5 separate regions of the Homo sapiens genome follow, and regions 1, 2, 3 and 4 are each reported to be linked to region 5. The links are microRNA targets in miRTarBase. Many come from high-throughput screens and were not tested one by one. Region 5 holds a microRNA gene; each other region holds the end of a gene's coding sequence.
What was found. Region 5 holds the annotated microRNA hsa-miR-5011-5p (UAUAUAUACAGCCAUGCACUC, at 2,792-2,812, shown strand). A microRNA usually pairs through its seed, bases 2 to 8, with sites in the 3' UTR of a target mRNA and lowers its output. Matches are read on the target gene's strand: a 7mer-m8 pairs with bases 2 to 8, a 7mer-A1 pairs with bases 2 to 7 and ends in A, and an 8mer does both.

Region 1: the mRNA of COL8A1 is a reported target of hsa-miR-5011-5p. Seed matches in the 3' UTR shown: 8mer at 893-900, 8mer at 891-898, 8mer at 889-896, 8mer at 887-894, 8mer at 885-892 and 7mer-m8 at 884-890.
Region 2: the mRNA of HPS3 is a reported target of hsa-miR-5011-5p. Seed matches in the 3' UTR shown: 7mer-m8 at 3,385-3,391.
Region 3: miRTarBase lists PPARGC1A as a target of hsa-miR-5011-5p. Seed matches in the 3' UTR shown: 7mer-A1 at 1,222-1,228, 8mer at 1,223-1,230, 8mer at 1,225-1,232, 8mer at 1,227-1,234, 8mer at 1,229-1,236, 8mer at 1,231-1,238 and 13 more.
Region 4: miRTarBase lists CCT4 as a target of hsa-miR-5011-5p. Seed matches in the 3' UTR shown: 7mer-A1 at 3,285-3,291 and 7mer-m8 at 3,284-3,290.

What each region holds. Positions count from the first base shown.
Region 1 is chr3:99,795,445-99,799,502 of GRCh38, reverse strand. It overlaps COL8A1 (collagen type VIII alpha 1 chain), which reads right to left. Exons shown (of 4, transcript NM_020351.4): 4 at 286-4,058. The coding sequence ends at 3,367. Among named protein-coding and RNA genes, the nearest start is that of CMSS1, 20 kb to the left of the region's middle.
Region 2 is chr3:149,171,645-149,175,702 of GRCh38, reverse strand. HPS3 (HPS3 biogenesis of lysosomal organelles complex 2 subunit 1) reads right to left here. Exons shown (of 17, transcript NM_032383.5): 17 at 1,971-3,608. The coding sequence ends at 3,481. CP (ceruloplasmin) reads left to right here. Exons shown (of 19, transcript NM_000096.4): 19 at 1,973-3,206. The coding sequence ends at 1,989. Among named protein-coding and RNA genes, the nearest start is that of HPS3, 44 kb to the right of the region's middle.
Region 3 is chr4:23,792,494-23,796,551 of GRCh38, reverse strand. PPARGC1A (PPARG coactivator 1 alpha) reads left to right here. Exons shown (of 13, transcript NM_013261.5): 13 at 627-4,058. The coding sequence ends at 730. Among named protein-coding and RNA genes, the nearest start is that of PPARGC1A-AS1, 25 kb to the right of the region's middle.
Region 4 is chr2:61,865,049-61,869,106 of GRCh38, forward strand. It overlaps CCT4 (chaperonin containing TCP1 subunit 4), which reads right to left. Exons shown (of 14, transcript NM_006430.4): 14 at 3,037-3,658. The coding sequence ends at 3,644. Among named protein-coding and RNA genes, the nearest start is that of FAM161A, 13 kb to the left of the region's middle.
Region 5 is chr18:67,078,816-67,082,885 of GRCh38, forward strand. MIR5011 (microRNA 5011) reads left to right here and starts at 2,769; the gene lies at 2,769-2,871.

The sequences.
Region 1 (4,058 bases), not on the chromosome of region 5:
ATAGAATGTGACTGATGGTTAGTATCCTGGACCATGGAGATGAGGGCAACACCCTTGATGTAGAAGAGCAATAAGATGGAAGGAGCCTGGGGCTGTGATTGGAATTACCATGTGAGTCCTAGACTGCTTATCCTAGGAGCTCTTAAGTCAAAGAGGAATAAATTGTTCTGTATAAGCTATGCTTATTTTAGGTCTCTATTTCAGCAGCTAATTCATGAGAGTACGAATTTAAAAATACTTGTGAGGTTCAGTGTCAACTGAATGATACGAACAAGATGAGAAACATACTTTTAAAGATATTTAATGATGTTTTTCAAATCAGTACAAAAATTTAAATACAAAAATGATTTGCTATTGACAAGTCTCAAATCTGTCATGGGAACTCAAACAAGTTACCAGTCTGTTCACCGTTCATTGTATTCTATAAAATATTTGATAACAGTCACCCACTACAGACATTCTTTTCCCCTGTGGGATGTCATACTGCATTAAAACTCTGTATTTACATAACAATAATATGAGTTTGGTCCATTTCACATGGAAGAATTCTGGTTAATTTTGAACTAAATAGGGATTATAGCACAATCCCTAGACTTTAGAACACGTGGTTGTTTCATCTGCTTTTACACTAATATGTTAACATGTTGTGCAGCACTCAAAAGGGAAATACAGGCACATAGATAATTATTTAAAACTCTTTTTTAAATTAAATGGAGTATCATTTAGGTCTGAGATTAGCACCATTGTAGAATGCACAGTATTTGGCATAGATGTTGCTCCTCTTCTATCTAAAAGTTAGAAACCTATGTCTGATAATACACATACACACACATGCGCACGCATACACACACGTGCGCTCACGCGCACACACACACACACACACATATATATATATATATAGGCAATTGAGTGACAACCAATAAATAAGTTGGAAGATATTTTGAAAAGTGAAATTTGGTTTTAACTAAAAAGATAATTTCTCTCTTTCTTGGTGGGAATTAAAAGCCCATACATGTACAGATAAATACAATTTTACAAATCACCTGATCTGACTTGCTTTTAAACCATTTCAATGTGGCTGTTTAGCAGAAGGAGCCCAATGGATCCATGCTGCCCACCATAGTCATCAGCCCAAAACCAGTATCCTCAAGAACAACCCAAAGTATATTTGGCCACATAGATGCTGTCTGCTTTGAAAACAAAGGTTGTGGAGGACATCTTTTTGTTGGGAAAAGATTGTTGTATAATTAGTAGTGACAAGAACCCCTGTGGTAATGGACTAATTTCTCTTCTTAAAAATTGAGAAGAAATGGTGCTTGTATACTATATAGGGAAATGAGATATTGGCCAAGAGAAGAATTTTTGTGATGGTAATAATGATTCAGATTTGACAAAGACACATTTCCATGTGTTTTCATACCGTATTTATTTGTGTATTTTTCCATCTATATCTATCCCCTTAACTCATGGTTTTATTTTTGACAAAAATATACAAGATTCCACCACCATAACCCCACATTATTGCTCCAAGTGATAGAGTCAGCAGCAGGCTAATAGCAGGCTCGAAATGGGTCTTTGGTGTTTGGAGACCAGATTAGAATGCCCAAAGCAGTTAGTATGTGCCCAAGCAAAAACCTGGAAAAATATTTATTTCTGCTTTTCAGACTTGTATTGGCCTTTGATTTGTGCCGAGTACAGGATGACATTAAAAACACAGGCTCTTGTTGCCCTTTGACATTCTACATAGCCCTTCCACAGTCCGCTTCTAAGGAAACAGTTCTTTTCCTATACTTTTACTACCTACACCCAGAAGCAGCACATCTGTTTTTAAATTCGAAATTTCAGAATTATTTTTTCAAATATTAATTTTTCTATGTAATTCTGAAACTCCCCCCTCACCAATTATGGCTTGGATTTTGAAAGCTGACTTTGGCCGGGCACGGTGGCTCATGCCTGTAATCCCAGCACTTTGGAAGGCTGAGGCAGGTGCATCACTTGAGGCCAGGAGTTTGAGACCAGCCTGGCCAACATGGCGAAAACCCATCTTTACTAAATATACAAAAATTAGCCAGGCATGGTGGCGCAAGACAGTAGTCCCAGTACTCGGGAGGCTGAGACAGGACAATTGCTTGAACCTAGGAGGTAGAGGTTGCAGTAAGCCAAGATCGTGCTACTGCACTCCAGCCTGGGTGACAGAGTAAGACTCCATCTCAAAAAAAAAAGAAAAAAATTGACTTTGGAACCTCAGATTACATATCAGTTTGCATACATGCTAAACAGAGAAATGTCCTCAAAATTCAGTTACTAAAAATTACTGATATCTCCATGATTAGAACCACACTGTGGTTGTGTGTGTAGTCAAAGGAGGAGAATTTTTAATGCTATATAAGCATAACTGATAACTGCTATTACAAATAAATATTCCACAAATTTGGAAAGTTATTAGAGGAAGAATTTTTTTTCCTTGTAATTTCCAGGTGTTTATATTAGTTGGGCCATAGTGAAAATTACATGGAGGAAAGAAAATAGGAAAATAAGTCACAGAAAAAGAAAATCAAAACAAATAGAAACTCTGGGGAACAAGTGAGTTAATTACTGCTCATGTCTCCCATCCGGTTCTCTAGCTCCTTGAGGGTTACTGTCTAATGCTCCACAAAAGTGCCTTACCCAGTGCTTGGTACAGAGAAGGCACTGAATAAATTCACAAAGGCCGATTGGTTCACCCATTCTTTTAGAGACAACAGACACGCAATTCTGACGAGGACTCCTGTTACTAAAAGACACAGCCTCTGATACAAGAGAGATATCCCTTTGACTAAAGCATTACCAGGGTCCCCAGGGCCCCCTCCCACTGGGGCGGTAACACTACGGGTCTCCCCACCATATATTCCATGTCAAAGTATCTACACAAATACAGAGGAAATTAAGCAAGTAAATACGGTATGTAATTGTTATCATTTGTATTTCTTTAAGGCATATTTATAAATATTTTAAAGTAAACAATATGAGTGAGTGCCTTTCATTAGCTATGATCTTTCATACTGATATATTTTGACTGATCTGAATAAGCAGGTTACTGTGGAAGCATATAACATAAAACAGCTAATATGATTCCAGTGGGTACAACCAAGTGTCAGTACTTGATACATAACTCTATCCCATCATTCGCAATTACAGGCTGCTGTGTGGAGTATTAAACATGCATCTTAGTTTTTATTTGTACACAATGGTCCAAATTTTCACTTACATATAACTTTCCAACTGTGTAAGTGTTTTGAAGCAATTATGTTTTTCATTTGGATTTTTTGGTGTGTCATTTTCTTCTATAAAATCTCTTTCTTTTCTTTGTTTTTTGTTTTTTTGTTTTTACATGGGATACAATAAATATCCTGAAAAGGAGGAGTGGACATACTGCCCGGCATACAGTCCTGCAGCCTGTTCTGAGGGCATCTGGAGGAACACCCGGTCTCCGGGCCTGAGCAGCAGCACTGCACTCCCAGATGCCTGGTCCAGGAAGCCCTTTTTGTACTCGTCGTACGTGTACATCACGGGCTCGTTGTTCTTGAATAGAGCAACCCACACGTTGCCCCCCTTGCAGTGAACGTGGTATGCAAAGTAGTAGACACCAGGGACCTCACAGGTGAAGATGCCTGTCTGCGGGTTGTAGTTCTGTCTGCCGTTATACAGCAGTTTGTTAAACTTCACTGGGGCCCCCACCGGTGGGAAAGGTGCGGTTAGCTCGGCGGTAAATGCAGGCATCTCATAGGCTGGCCCTCCATTCTTGCCTTTCTTAGCCCCGTAGGCATGGGGGGGTTTCACGCCATCAATTCCCAGCCCCATATCTGGCAGATACTCTCCCTGGGGTGGTGGTGTAGGGGGCATCACAGCTGGGGGTCCTGGAGGTCCTGGAGGGCCTGGGGGTCCTGGAAGGCCAGGCTGGCCTTGAGGACCAAGGGCACCAGGCTTCCCTGGGGGGCCATGAAGTCCTGCCACTCCGGGTTTCCCTATACCAGGGAACCCAGGGGGCCCTGGGAGGCCCGGCTCCCCTTTGGGGCCTG
Region 2 (4,058 bases), not on the chromosome of region 5:
CCATGTGTAGGTACACACACACACACACACACACACACTTAAAATGGAGAAAAATGAACAGTTTTTTTGGTAAGATTCCTGCACTGTGGCTGCAGGCTTTGGTCTTTCCTGGGTCTTTCGAGTTGAGGATTGTTGTAATTAGAAATGGTAAATTCAAAGGGAGGAAATTATGTAAAGAAAACCAATCTATGTCTTTCCTCCCTAAAATGGGGAAAAAGGGAACATACAAATGAAGAAAATATAAATGTAAATATATTTGAAGATTTAAAAAGCCCTGAAAGGTTAACCTTTAGTGCAAATGGAAAGTTTTAATTTCTGCTCCTGGGTCTTACACAAACAACTTACATCATGAAAAACTATTTCCATTAATGCCCTTTTTATTAGAGCAGTCACTGATAACACTAGAATATCAAAGACTCTAACAGACAAGCCACTAAATTTAACGCCAATAACTTGAACAAAGTGAAGAGAGCCAAATATGAGAAAGAAAACTTTAGTCTTTAAATAACACTTGCAACCATGTGGTTACATGTGGTTGCATGTAAACCACACAAAAGGATGGTCTTGCTCAAAAAAATAATGGTGAGTAAGTAACATGGAGGCATTTGGGGAATTCATGTGTGCAAATGCCTGGCATGCAGAGTATGGCACTACAGGGTAACCCTACACACACAGCCACAGAGAAGATTCCTCCTGTGTAACAACCGTGAAAGAAGAGGGAGATTACTGCTTGGTTAAGAAAGGCGAGATAGTTTTTAAAGCTATAGTAAAAATTACAGAACAAATAGCAAATATGAAGTAAAAATCAACACTAGATAAAAAATTAAAGAGAAATTTGACTTTTGCAAAGAGAAAAGGTATTGCATGAGACTGAAAGCAGCAGACTGAATAAAAAAAGATAGTTTGAACTATCTTTGGCCCATAAAATCAGTGGCCATGTTTATCAGTCTGAATCATCTTTAAATAAGTCCAATAAAGCTTTGAGCAAGTTTACATTAATTATGAGTCTTAGAAAAGCCTGCTTAGCTTTAAATTTCTTACAGGCAGGGACTATATATTCTGTATTTCTAGCTAAGTACCCAAATCCAATACAATAGTTTGCTTACTGAATGTATAACAACATATTAATTCAATGAAGAGAAACTTTTGAAACTTTTTTGACATAATTTCAGATTCCCATATACCTTTCACCCAGATTCCCCAAATATTAATGATGTGCGTAGCCACATTGGCTTTCTCATTCTTTTCCCTATCTCCCTCTCATGCTCACCCTCTATATGTACACACACAGACGTGTATAGATACACATACAACTATCTTTCCTAAAAACAAGAATATTCTTGTACATGACCACAATACAATGATCGAAATTAGAAAAGCAACAATGATTTAAAAACTAGAGATCTTCAAATTTCGCTAATAATCCTAATCATGTTCTTTACAGAAAAAGAAAATCCCGGATCATGTACTGCATTGTTGCCATGTCTTTTAAGTCTCCTTTACTCTGAATAATTCCTTAATAAAGGGCACTTTGTAGAATGTCCTTCAATTTGAGTTTGTCTAATGTTTCCTTATGATTAGATTTAGGTTATGCACTTTTGGCAAGACTATCATGGCATGATGTTGTGTTTTTCTTAGTACACCATATCAGGAGGCACAAGATATTGATCAGTTCTATTACTGGTTATGTTAACTTCAAGCTTTGGTTAAGATGGTGTCTGCCAGGTGTCTCCATTGTAAAGTTATTCATTTTCCCTTTACAATTAATAAAGATCTTGTAGGGAAGAAAGTAATCTTTCTTTAAATAAAGCAGCAATAGAATGAGAGATTTTTAAACATATAAAAAGCAGAAAAATATAAATGAATCAGGAGTAAAGTAACATTAAAAATTGGAATACATTTAAAGAACCATCTACTAATTTCTAACCATATATTATTTTTAATAATGGTCTTAAAATTTCTTTTTCTATAGACACCAAATCTGGCTGAATGAAATAAATTGGTGATAAGTGGAAAAAAGAGAAAAACCAATGATTCATAACAATGTATGTGAAAGTGTAAAATAGAATGTTACTTTGGAATGACTATAAACATTAAAAGAAGACTGGAAGCATACAACTTTGTACATTTGTGGGGGAAAACTATTAATTTTTTGCAAATGGAAAGATCAACAGACTATATAATGATACATGACTGACACTTGTACACTAGGTAATAAAACTGATTCATACAGTCTAATGATATCACCGCTGTTAGGGTTTTATAAAACTGCATTTAAAAAAAGATCTATGACCAGATATTCTCCTGGGTGCTCCTCAAAGGAACACTATTAAGGTTCATTGAAATGTTTTCAATCATTGCCTTCCCATTGATCCTTCTAACATGCTGTTGACATCACACCTAATATTCAGAGGGAATGGGCAAGGTATGAGGGAAGGAAATAAAAAATAAAATAAATAAAATAGAATGACACAAATTTGAGTTTTGTGAACCCCTGAACAGATGGTCTTAAGGACGTTATCTGGAACTGGAGAAAAGCAGAGTTGAGAGACAATTCTATAGATTAAATCCTGGTAAGGACAAACATTGCCATTAGAAGAAAAGCTTCAAAATAGACCTGTGGCAGATGTCACATGAGTAGAATTTCTGCCCAGCCTTAACTGCATTCAGAGGATAATATCAATGAACTAAACTTGAACTAAAAATTTTTTAAACAAAAAGTTATAAATGAAGACACATGGTTGTGAATACAATGATGTATTTCTTTATTTTCACATACACTCTAGCTAAAAGAGCAAGAGTACACATCAACAAAAATGGAAACAAGGCTTTGGCTGAAAAAAACATGCATTTGACAAATCATGTTAATAGCTAGACAAGAAGAAAGTTAGCTTTGTAAACTTCTACTTCATTTGATTCAGAGAAACAGAGCATGAGTTTTCTTAAAAGTAACAAGAAAAGGAACAAAAAAAATGAGGTTTGAAATCTTTTACCATGGCAAAACATTAACATCTTTCTCAAAAACATAGAGAAATCTGGAAAAATCAAGAAGATAAAATTCTGGACCAGTTAGTGACATTCTTTCAAGCATACTTGTAAAATGTTTCCTTAAAGTGTTCTTGGGATGAAAATGATTGTCATGTCTCCAACAACAGTGAACTGATGTTGTTCCTTGGAATAAAAGTCAATCCCCACCTTAAAAAATGTATGGCTTCTTTGAGGAATTCTTATGTCTTAAAGACTTTTTACATTCTAGACAATTAAATTGATTGAGGTCATAAATTAAGAAGTGAATAGTTACCACTACACGGTAAGGTAAGCAGCCTGAAAGCATTTGTATCATATATGTGTGTGTGTGTGTGTGTGTGTGTGTGTGTGTGTGTGATATATAAAATAAAAAACTCCTCTACTTGTACTTTGGCATTCAATTTTTAGAAATTCAGTCTCAAATGCCATTATGGTATTTTTCAAATGATACCTTTAAGTCAATGGTTTCTTTCGACTGCAATAGAGAAGATATGGCAAGAAAAATGTTGCAGTACCATCTTCTGGGAGAACATTCATGAAATCCTTCAGTTCTAGTTCCACAGCAACAATTGACAATGTTTCTGTGTAGAAAAGAATATCTGAATTAGAATTGAAAGTCTGTCTTTCATTCAATCTCTTCTTACTTAACCAACCAATTAGAAGCCAGTTCAGGCCAGGCGTGGTGGCTCACGCCTGTAATCCCAGCACTTTGGGAGGCCGAGGTGGGCAGATCACGAGGTCAGGAGTTCAAGACCAGTCTGGCCAACATGGTGAAACCCTGTCTCTACTAAAAATACAAAAAAATTAGCCGGGCATGGTGGCGCACACCTGTAATCCTAGCTACTCAGGAGGCTGAGGCGGGAGAATTGCTTGAACCCTTGAGGCAGAAGTTGCAGTGAGTTGAGATTGCACCACTGCACTCCAGCCTAGGTGACAGAGCAAGACTCCATCTCAGGACAAAAAAAAAAAAAAAAAAAGAAGCCAGTTCAGGTAACAAAATGTTATAACTTCAAAGAAAAAAATCAGTCTCT
Region 3 (4,058 bases), not on the chromosome of region 5:
GCTTTATTTATACCTGCACTTTATTTCTTCTTTCCGAATTTACTCTCCTGGGATGTGAAGCATTTCTCTCAACCTTCCAATTTGGGGAGAATTTGCACCAAAAATTCTGGGAGGCCAAGAGGTACGGAAGTAGAGGACCACATCATATGTCCCCTCCTGCCTCAAAGAGAAGCATCAGGTTGAAGTTTAGGGGAAATTCTCATGATTCTTTCTCTCATACTCTACTGGATTTTATGCTCAATTAAATTAATCCCATTGAATAGGAAAATTAGTTCCAGCTTGTACTCTCACGTCTACATCTAAGTTATTGAGGAACCATGGGCAAGTCATTTGACGTGTCGGGGGAAGGGGAGGGTGGTTATCTGCCAGAGATATATTAACGTGTGCTCTGCCTAACTCCCAGGGTGTTTAAGCCTAAACGAGTCAACAGGTGCGTGTTTTTGAAAGCTCACTACTCCCCATCCTCTTCCTATATATCCATATATATCCAATAAAATCTGACTATTGTTTTCTAAAGTATATTGATTGGAAGAGTTGTTATCGAATCCAGTAATCTTGAATTGGAATGATTGAGTTAATGGCCATCAGCAAAGTGTGTATCTAAACTGGCTTGTGTTTTTTTTCAGATTCAAACTCAGATGACTTTGACCCTGCTTCCACCAAGAGCAAGTATGACTCTCTGGATTTTGATAGTTTACTGAAAGAAGCTCAGAGAAGCTTGCGCAGGTAACATGTTCCCTAGCTGAGGATGACAGAGGGATGGCGAATACCTCATGGGACAGCGCGTCCTTCCCTAAAGACTATTGCAAGTCATACTTAGGAATTTCTCCTACTTTACACTCTCTGTACAAAAACAAAACAAAACAACAACAATACAACAAGAACAACAACAACAATAACAACAATGGTTTACATGAACACAGCTGCTGAAGAGGCAAGAGACAGAATGATATCCAGTAAGCACATGTTTATTCATGGGTGTCAGCTTTGCTTTTCCTGGAGTCTCTTGGTGATGGAGTGTGCGTGTGTGCATGTATGTGTGTGTGTATGTATGTGTGTGGTGTGTGTGCTTGGTTTAGGGGAAGTATGTGTGGGTACATGTGAGGACTGGGGGCACCTGACCAGAATGCGCAAGGGCAAACCATTTCAAATGGCAGCAGTTCCATGAAGACACGCTTAAAACCTAGAACTTCAAAATGTTCGTATTCTATTCAAAAGGAAATATATATATATATATATATATATATATATATATATATAAATTAAAAAGGAAAGAAAACTAACAACCAACCAACCAACCAACCAACCACAAACCACCCTAAAATGACAGCCGCTGATGTCTGGGCATCAGCCTTTGTACTCTGTTTTTTTAAGAAAGTGCAGAATCAACTTGAAGCAAGCTTTCTCTCATAACGTAATGATTATATGACAATCCTGAAGAAACCACAGGTTCCATAGAACTAATATCCTGTCTCTCTCTCTCTCTCTCTCTCTCTCTTTTTTTTTTCTTTTTCCTTTTGCCATGGAATCTGGGTGGGAGAGGATACTGCGGGCACCAGAATGCTAAAGTTTCCTAACATTTTGAAGTTTCTGTAGTTCATCCTTAATCCTGACACCCATGTAAATGTCCAAAATGTTGATCTTCCACTGCAAATTTCAAAAGCCTTGTCAATGGTCAAGCGTGCAGCTTGTTCAGCGGTTCTTTCTGAGGAGCGGACACCGGGTTACATTACTAATGAGAGTTGGGTAGAACTCTCTGAGATGTGTTCAGATAGTGTAATTGCTACATTCTCTGATGTAGTTAAGTATTTACAGATGTTAAATGGAGTATTTTTATTTTATGTATATACTATACAACAATGTTCTTTTTTGTTACAGCTATGCACTGTAAATGCAGCCTTCTTTTCAAAACTGCTAAATTTTTCTTAATCAAGAATATTCAAATGTAATTATGAGGTGAAACAATTATTGTACACTAACATATTTAGAAGCTGAACTTACTGCTTATATATATTTGATTGTAAAAACAAAAAGACAGTGTGTGTGTCTGTTGAGTGCAACAAGAGCAAAATGATGCTTTCCGCACATCCATCCCTTAGGTGAGCTTCAATCTAAGCATCTTGTCAAGAAATATCCTAGTCCCCTAAAGGTATTAACCACTTCTGCGATATTTTTCCACATTTTCTTGTCGCTTGTTTTTCTTTGAAGTTTTATACACTGGATTTGTTAGGGGAATGAAATTTTCTCATCTAAAATTTTTCTAGAAGATATCATGATTTTATGTAAAGTCTCTCAATGGGTAACCATTAAGAAATGTTTTTATTTTCTCTATCAACAGTAGTTTTGAAACTAGAAGTCAAAAATCTTTTTAAAATGCTGTTTTGTTTTAATTTTTGTGATTTTAATTTGATACAAAATGCTGAGGTAATAATTATAGTATGATTTTTACAATAATTAATGTGTGTCTGAAGACTATCTTTGAAGCCAGTATTTCTTTCCCTTGGCAGAGTATGACGATGGTATTTATCTGTATTTTTTACAGTTATGCATCCTGTATAAATACTGATATTTCATTCCTTTGTTTACTAAAGAGACATATTTATCAGTTGCAGATAGCCTATTTATTATAAATTATGAGATGATGAAAATAATAAAGCCAGTGGAAATTTTCTACCTAGGATGCATGACAATTGTCAGGTTGGAGTGTAAGTGCTTCATTTGGGAAATTCAGCTTTTGCAGAAGCAGTGTTTCTACTTGCACTAGCATGGCCTCTGACGTGACCATGGTGTTGTTCTTGATGACATTGCTTCTGCTAAATTTAATAAAAACTTCAGAAAAACCTCCATTTTGATCATCAGGATTTCATCTGAGTGTGGAGTCCCTGGAATGGAATTCAGTAACATTTGGAGTGTGTATTCAAGTTTCTAAATTGAGATTCGATTACTGTTTGGCTGACATGACTTTTCTGGAAGACATGATACACCTACTACTCAATTGTTCTTTTCCTTTCTCTCGCCCAACACGATCTTGTAAGATGGATTTCACCCCCAGGCCAATGCAGCTAATTTTGATAGCTGCATTCATTTATCACCAGCATATTGTGTTCTGAGTGAATCCACTGTTTGTCCTGTCGGATGCTTGCTTGATTTTTTGGCTTCTTATTTCTAAGTAGATAGAAAGCAATAAAAATACTATGAAATGAAAGAACTTGTTCACAGGTTCTGCGTTACAACAGTAACACATCTTTAATCCGCCTAATTCTTGTTGTTCTGTAGGTTAAATGCAGGTATTTTAACTGTGTGAACGCCAAACTAAAGTTTACAGTCTTTCTTTCTGAATTTTGAGTATCTTCTGTTGTAGAATAATAATAAAAAGACTATTAAGAGCAATAAATTATTTTTAAGAAATCGAGATTTAGTAAATCCTATTATGTGTTCAAGGACCACATGTGTTCTCTATTTTGCCTTTAAATTTTTGTGAACCAATTTTAAATACATTCTCCTTTTTGCCCTGGATTGTTGACATGAGTGGAATACTTGGTTTCTTTTCTTACTTATCAAAAGACAGCACTACAGATATCATATTGAGGATTAATTTATCCCCCCTACCCCCAGCCTGACAAATATTGTTACCATGAAGATAGTTTTCCTCAATGGACTTCAAATTGCATCTAGAATTAGTGGAGCTTTTGTATCTTCTGCAGACACTGTGGGTAGCCCATCAAAATGTAAGCTGTGCTCCTCTCATTTTTATTTTTATTTTTTTGGGAGAGAATATTTCAAATGAACACGTGCACCCCATCATCACTGGAGGCAAATTTCAGCATAGATCTGTAGGATTTTTAGAAGACCGTGGGCCATTGCCTTCATGCCGTGGTAAGTACCACATCTACAATTTTGGTAACCGAACTGGTGCTTTAGTAATGTGGATTTTTTTCTTTTTTAAAAGAGATGTAGCAGAATAATTCTTCCAGTGCAACAAAATCAATTTTTTGCTAAACGACTCCGAGAACAACAGTTGGGCTGTCAACATTCAAAGCAGCAGAGAGGGAACTTTG
Region 4 (4,058 bases), not on the chromosome of region 5:
CAAAAAAAAAAAAAAAAAAAAAGATGTATATGATGGCCAAGTTGACAGTGGGTAGATTTATGATGCCTAATGTGTCAACCTGGCCAAGGGATATTTGGTTAAAACATTTCTGGGAGTGTCTGTGAAGGTGTTTCTGAAGGAGATTTAACATTTGAATTGGTGGACTGAATAAAGCAGATAGCCCTCCCCAGTGCTGGTCAGCATCATCCAATCTGTTGAGAGGCTGAGTAAGAAAAAGGTGGCTGGGTGTGGGCTCAGGCTGGGCATGGTGGCTCACACCTGTAATCCCAGTATTTTGGGAGGCTGAGGCAGGTGGATCAACTGTGGTCAGGAGTTCAAGACCAGCCTAGGCAACATGGTGACACCCCGTCTCTACTGAAAAAAAAAAAACAAAAAACCAAAAATGAGCTAGATGTGGTGGCACGTGCCTGTAATCCCAGCTACTAGGGAGGCCGAAGCACGAGAATGGCTTGAACCTGGGAGGCGGAAGTTGCAGTGAGCTGAGATCACACCATTGCACTCCAGCCTGGGCGACAAGAGCAAAACTCCATCTCAAAAAAATTAAAAAAAAAAAAAAGACACTCTAGAGCAAGCTTGTCTAACCTGCAGCCCACAAGCCACAAGCAGCCCAGGACAGCTTTGAATGTGACCCAACACAAATTCGTAAATTTTCTTAAAACATTTTATATATGTATTTTTTTTTTTTTTAGCTCATTAGCTATTGTTAGTATTAGTGTATTTTATGGTTTGGCCCAAGAGAATTCTTCTTCCAACGTGGCCCAGGGAAGCCAAAAGATTGGACACCCCTGCTCTAGAGATTGTCAGAAAAATCTGAACACGGATTGGGTGTTGGACATTACAGAACTGTTTTCTTACAATTGTTTTCTTTTTTCTTGAGATGGACGTATTAATACAGTACTTCATAACCATTTAACATGGGTAAAACTTATTAGGCTTCCTTTGTGCTAAAGTTTTTGGGTGTTGTCTCCATTTTGCATACTGCAATGACTTCTGTTACCTAACTATGTAACAAAAGGTCAATTAATAGCTAAATCTAAGTGGAGGGTAATACAATGTTCATACTACTCTTGAAACCTCCCCAGTAGCTGGGATTACAGGTGCCTGCCACTATGCCCGGCTTTTTTTTTTTTCCTACCTTTAGTAGAGACGGGGTTTCACCATGTTGGCCAGGCTGGTCTCAAACTCCTGACCTTGTGATCCACCCGCCTCGGCCTCCCAAAGTGCTGGGATTACAAGCGTGAGCAACCACGTCCGGCTGGAAGAATTCGAAGAATGCTGCTATACACACTATTTGTATTATTTAGGCATAACCTATGAACAAAAAGCTTTGTGCTGTTAGGCTGGGCATGGTGGCTCATGCCTGTAATCCTAGCACTTTGGGAAGCCAAGGTAAGGATAGCTTGAGCCCAGGAATTAAACGCCAGCCTGGGTAACACAGCGAGACCTCGTCTCTGTGAAAAAAAAATACAAAAATTAGCCAGGCATGGTGGTGTGCGCCTGTAGTCCCAGCTACTAGGGAGGCTGAGGTGGAAGGACTGCTTGAGCCTTGGAAAGTTGAGGCTGTAGTGAGCCATAGTTGTGCCAATGCATTCCAGCCTGGGCGACAGAGCAAGACCCTGTGTCAAAACACATAAAACAAAAACACTTGGCTGGGCATGGTGACTCATGCCTGTAATCCCAGCACTTTGGGAAGCCGAGATGTGCGGATCACGAGGTCAGGAGTTCAAGACCAGCCTGGCCAACACGGTAAAACCCCATCTCTACTAAAAATACAAAAACTGGCCGGGTGTGGCAGCGTGCACCTATAATCCCAGCTACTCGGAAGACTGAGGCAGAACTGCTTTAAACCTGGGAGGCGGAGGTTGTGGTAAGCCAAGATGGCACCATTGCACTCCAGCCTGGGTGAGAGCGAGACTCTGTCTCAAAAAAACAAACAAAAAAAACTTTCTGCTATCTGGGTGCAGTGGCACAGGCCTGTAGTGCTAGTTACTTGGGAGGCTGTGGCAAACTTGAGCCCAGGAGTTTGAAGTTATAGTGAGCTATGATCTTCACACATGAATAGCCACCACTCCTGCCGAAGCAACATGGCAAGGCACTGCCACTGAAAAAAAAAACATCTTGTGCTGAGTAACTGACAGATGTTTAAATATGGATTAGGTATTTTGACTTATGATTTTAGGATATACCTGATTCAACTGTTTTATGGCAGCTAGAATTAACATATTTCACGTTCTTATCAAAGTGAGGAATAAATTGAAGTACTAAATTCCAGATAATACAGAAATCTTTATCTAAAAATATTAGACACTTACCAAGTTAGTTAACTATTTCAGTTTCATGATGAACACAAAAGGAGCTTCAGACTGTTTGGCTGAAATCCTTTCTCCACAATGCTAGAGGGGCCTAGTTGCTTTCATGAAACTCCTTGTGAAATACTCAAGGAGATGGTAGCTGAAATACCAGATTGTTTAGGCCAAACTTTTGATCGACCTTAAAAGGTCTAGCCTTTACTCAAAGGTATGAAAGCTTTTACAAAAAGAGTGCTTGACTAAGTGCCTTTAATCCCAGGGCTTTAGAAGACCAAGGCAGGACTGTTTAAGGCCAGGAGTTCAAAACCAGCCTGGGCAACATAGTGGGATCCCATTTCTGAAAAAAAAAAAAAAAAATATATATATATATATATATACACACACATATATATATAGGGATGGTGGCACATACCTGTAGCTGTAGCTATTCTAAAGAATAAAGCAGGATTCTTTATTCTTAGCTCAAGTCCAGGAGTTCAAGGCTGCAGTGACCTATGATCACGCCACTGCACTCCAGCCTGGGTGATGAGCTTTTCTCTAAAAAAAAAAAAATCACTAGACTTCAATATGTGCGAAATAAATAGATTGGAAGGTGGCTAAAGGGAAGAGACTAGTTACAGATTTGACACTCTTCATGGTGAGATGACACTGATGCTTAGATCAGGACAGTGGCAATCAAGATGTTTAAAATCACTGGAACAAGACATTAGTTAAGAAACCCTTTTGTTTAAGTAAGATTTGCTACATATATGTATACACTTTTATTTGCAGAAGGAATCCAACACAGCAGTCATTATTACTGGGAAAAGGAATTAGGATGATAGGATAAAAGGAGGCTTTCATTTTTCATTCTCTTTCTGTACCATTAACTTATTTTTGTTTTAACTGGGCAGCCTCCCAAGCCAAAGTAGGTTCAGAGAGGTGCCACTTGGATCATTAACTTTTAAGACAGCATATATATTATATGTTGGTAGTTTTTAAGGCCAGGGAGCATTTATCAGTGATGAGCATATTGGGCCATTTTTTTCCTCAACATGTAAACTCACTTTTTACGCTTCTTTTATTAGTTTTTATTAGTTTTTCAAAAGTATCAGAAATAACAGAATGTTGGGAGAAGATAAATCTGCCTTTTGAAACCAAATATTTAATATTTTCATTAAATTGTTTCAATACAACTTCAGGCAAATGCCAACTGGAAGACCAAGCCCAGAAATTCAGAGGAAATAATCTTCCAAACAAGGAACACCAAGGTGATCTTCTTCCATTCCAGCCACAATACTGGTGATCATAATGGTGCTAGTCAGTTATCCAGATTATCGAGTGTTTACCTGATAAGAGAAAAACTTAGATTTCAAAACCTGTAATGACAGAATTTTAAAGCTGGAAAATGTTTAAGGCAATTAATAAAAGGAAAACCTGTATTAAGAACTGCTGTCACCTTGATGACTAGCAAATATTTATCAAAAGTAAAAACTTGGCCAGGCACGGTGGCTCATGCCTGTAATCCCAGCACTTTGGGAGGCTGAGGCAGGTGGATCACAAGGTAAGAAGTTCGAGACCAGCCTGACCAACATGGTGAAACCCCGTCTCTACTAAAAATACAAAAATTAGCTGGGTGTGGTGGCACATGCCTGTAATCCCAGCTACTTGGGAGGTGGGAGACTGAGGCAAGAGAATCGCTTGAACCCAGGAGGCGGAGGTTGCAATGAGCCGAGATCATGCCACTGC
Region 5 (4,070 bases):
TCCTAGACCTAGTTCATTAATTTGGAAAATTAAAAAGGCATATGATAAAAAGAAATATATTACATCACCTGTATATTACCAGAGCTATGATTATCCAAAAGAAAAGGAAAAAACATCTACATTTATGAAAGCAGAAGCAGTACAAATAAATAAACATATATTTATTTATTTCTATTCTATAAACTGGATAATGTACGTAACTCTACCATGTATATTAGGGTAATTAAGCTCATGAAATCATTTAAATGAAAGTGGATTTTCAAATATTAGACTAGAAAATAATTAAAAATGTGTACTTAGCCCTATAAGTTTTGAGTTCTAGTTGATGAGACAGAAATACTTTTAAAATTTATGAAGTATCCACATTAATATGAAGTAACATTTATTTTACCTTATTGGAATTCTAAACTTTCAGAGTCTTAAGCATGATTTTTCTTTTCTAATGCAATGAGCTCTTTTAATTACAATCATTGTTAAATAAGAATACTAATATATATGGCATTTCCCAAGGTTACTCTGCTTATAACTTTAAAATTTAGCTGTTGCCAAAAAAAAAAATTTCAGCTCAATTTAAATTTCTTTTGTGACAGCTTTTATCTGCTCACCACTGCTTTCTTATGGCAATCATAAATTCTCAATGCGAAGCAAAGCACTGTTCTGCTTTCCTCAAACAAAAGGGAAACTCATCATGTGTTTTATTTTAAGAAGAGCAACATACTTCTCAGGCATTTATTATCTGTATGTCCTCAGGTTTTGTGACAAAAAAGCTATACACACAAACACATCCATGTATGTATAGAAATGTAATTGGAAACATATCAATTTTTTCTAGCCAGTAGATACACCTTCGGACGTCTTGAACTTAAAATGAAAAATTAAAGAAAAACTACATTGCAAACTCTCCATTGTCTCTGGGGTTCTTAGCTCATTTTCTCTGATAAAACCATGGGCATGGACAATTAAGAAATTAAGATGTGACCAATGATACAATAACATCCTGAAAATTGTACAGTAAGCCATCTGACCCTTAGAAACTTGTGTGCAAGTGTGTTTATCTTTGTAGATAGATCTTAATTAAATTACCTGGATCAAAGCTTAACGTATACTAAATTGCCACTCATGAATTATTGTCACACATTCTTGAGACACGGCTTTACAAATTTATATCCTTAAAAACCTAGATTGGAGTGCCTTCTTCACACATCCATGTCTAATATGGATCATGTTGAGTATCTTTGGATATATTAATTTTGCAATTTAATTTCAGAAAAAAGTAGTATAACACTATTGTTTTGATTTATATTTTTCTAATTGCAAAAGTTTTCTAATTTTCATGTATGTATTGGTAATTTGCATTCTATTCCTATAGAATTGTATATATTTTATTTTGTAATTTAGTATTGCTTCTTAAAAATAAATATTGACATTGTATATCATTTCGTTACATATATTGTATGTTTTCCTAATCCATCATGCATCACATACTTTGTTTTCCATATAAATTGTCATATATGTTTATTAACTAACTCATAAATACTCATATCTGTCACCATTTTTTAATGCTTTCTTGTGTTTTGTCATGTTTAGGAACACTTTCCCCACAATTCACAATACTATCTGACAGGTGTTAGTATACCTGTCAGTGTTCTTGGTTGTAGATGACTGAAATCCATTCCAATTGACCTAAACCAGGTAATAGATTATATTGGATAAATCATATAATTATTGGAAGGCTAAAGAAACAGGCTCAGAACAGGGCAGCCCCATGGAAACCAGGTTCCAGAATGGCAGTAAAATCCCCCCACAGGAACAGTCTGATGAGATAGCGCTGCTGCCACCGTGGCACTTCCTCCCCTAGGGCCTGGGATATTTGATGGTTAATTTCTGTACCTCTGTGATGAATACATACTTGTTTGTTTCTTACTGTTTTTACTTCTTGCTTCTGTTTCAAATTTCTCCCCGAAGCCATCTGTTTTAGTTTCCTCAGGCTGCCATAACAGATTAGCATAAAACAAATGGCTAAAAGAACAGAAATGTATTCTCCCCCAGTTCTAGAAGCCAGTTCAAACTCGGGTGTCGGCAGGATTGCATTTAATCCAGGATTCTAGGAGACAATTCTTTCTTATCTCTTCCAGTTCCTGGTAGCTCCAGATGTTTCTTGGAGCTACACTTGGCTATTTAAAGTTAATTTTAATGTTTAATTAACTAAACATTAAAATAATTAAAAAGTCAGTCCCTCCATTGTGTTAGCTGTATTTGAAATACTCAAAGGCACATGTGGCTACAGGCTACTATATTGGACTATGCAAGGGTAGAACACGTGTTATCACACAATGGTCTCTTGCACAGTATTGCTCTAGAATATTCCCTGGACAGAAAAGTTTTACCTGTGGGGCATTAAACAACAAAGAGCCTTACAATTGCCTCTGACTTGTATAGTAAAGCCAACAGTTGTTTGTTGTCATCGTCAGAAAAGTTGATTCCATATTTGAATATGGTTTCACTGCTTGTCATGCTTGGCCAATGCCACAAACCATGGATTAACTGATGGCCTTCTCCACTCTCATGGCTATTCACCCCCAACAATAGAACTTATTTCTTTCATGTTGCCTCATATGGCAGAATCCCCTTCTATTTTAAGGCTGAATAATATTTCATGGTCATATACATATATACACACACACAGTCATGCATTGCTTAACAGGGAAATGTACCTTAAGGCAATTTTATCATTGTTTGAACATCATGGAGTGTCCTTATCCAAACCTAGATGGTATTGAGTGGATGCTGTTATATATACAGCCATGCACTCTGTAGTTTGGGTACACAGTGCATGGCTGTATATATAACACTATCCATTCATCTTTCAGCAGGACTTTTTTTTGGTCACAACCCTGCTAACCAAAACAGGATCTGGCCAGAGAGCATGAAGTGAAGAAACTGATAGGAAGTGGCAGATGTCAACAAAAGCAATCTCTAACTACTCATTGCAATTTAATTGTCATGGTGCTGGTGGTAGTGTCTTATGCTAATGAGCAATATGAGCAGCCTGGCAACACAACCCAGAAGTTACCACCTCTTTCCATGGCAACAACCTAAAAGTTACTGCCCCTGCCTTAGAAAGTTCTAAACAACCTGCCCCTCAATTTGCATTGGCTCACCCCTCAATTTGCATGCATTTGACCTGCCTTAGAAAGTTCTAAACAACCTGCCCCTCAATTTGCATTGGCTCACCCCTCAATTTGCATGCAATTGAATGTGGGTCTCGCTGAGTATAAATACCGTTGCCAAGAGACCATATGTTGCTGACTCTGATTGCACTGCCTATGATTTAGCCCTGCTCTGCAAGGAGCAGTACCATTCAATAAACGATTGCTAAGACTCCTAGCTCATCCTTGAATTTTTTCCGGGGTTAAGCAAGAAATCCTCCCTGGCTAAGCCCCAGTTTGGGGCCTTGCCTGTCCCACAGCAGTGTAACGTACTACACACTTAGACAATATGACATAGACTGTATCTCCTAGGCTACAACTCTGTATAGCTTATTATTATACTGAATGCTATAGGCAATTGTAACACAATAGCATCCGTACATCTAAACATACCAAAACAAAGAAAAATTACACTAAAAACACAGTATCGTAATCTTATTGGACCACATTTATATATGTGGTTTTTTGTTGACTGATGCAATACACAGTGCATGGCTGTATATGTAACACTATCAGTCACCATTCAATGAGCAATTAGGTCGTTTCTATACTTTATTGCTACTAACACTACAATGAAATACATATGGATAAACCTAGAGGGCATTAAGCTAAGTAACTCTTACTTCTAAGATTTCTACCTTAAAGAGTCATATTTATGGCCTTTACTTGAGGTAAACTTCAGAAGCCATTTGTTGTGGATTAGGTAACGTGTGGAGAAATTGCTTTGTTGGGTTTTTCTTCCTTTGCATTTTAGTTTACACATATTAATTGTATGTATTTATAATCTGCAGAGTGATATTTTGATAAATGTATATGAAGTGTAATGATCAAATCAGAGTAATTAGGATAAACATCACCTCA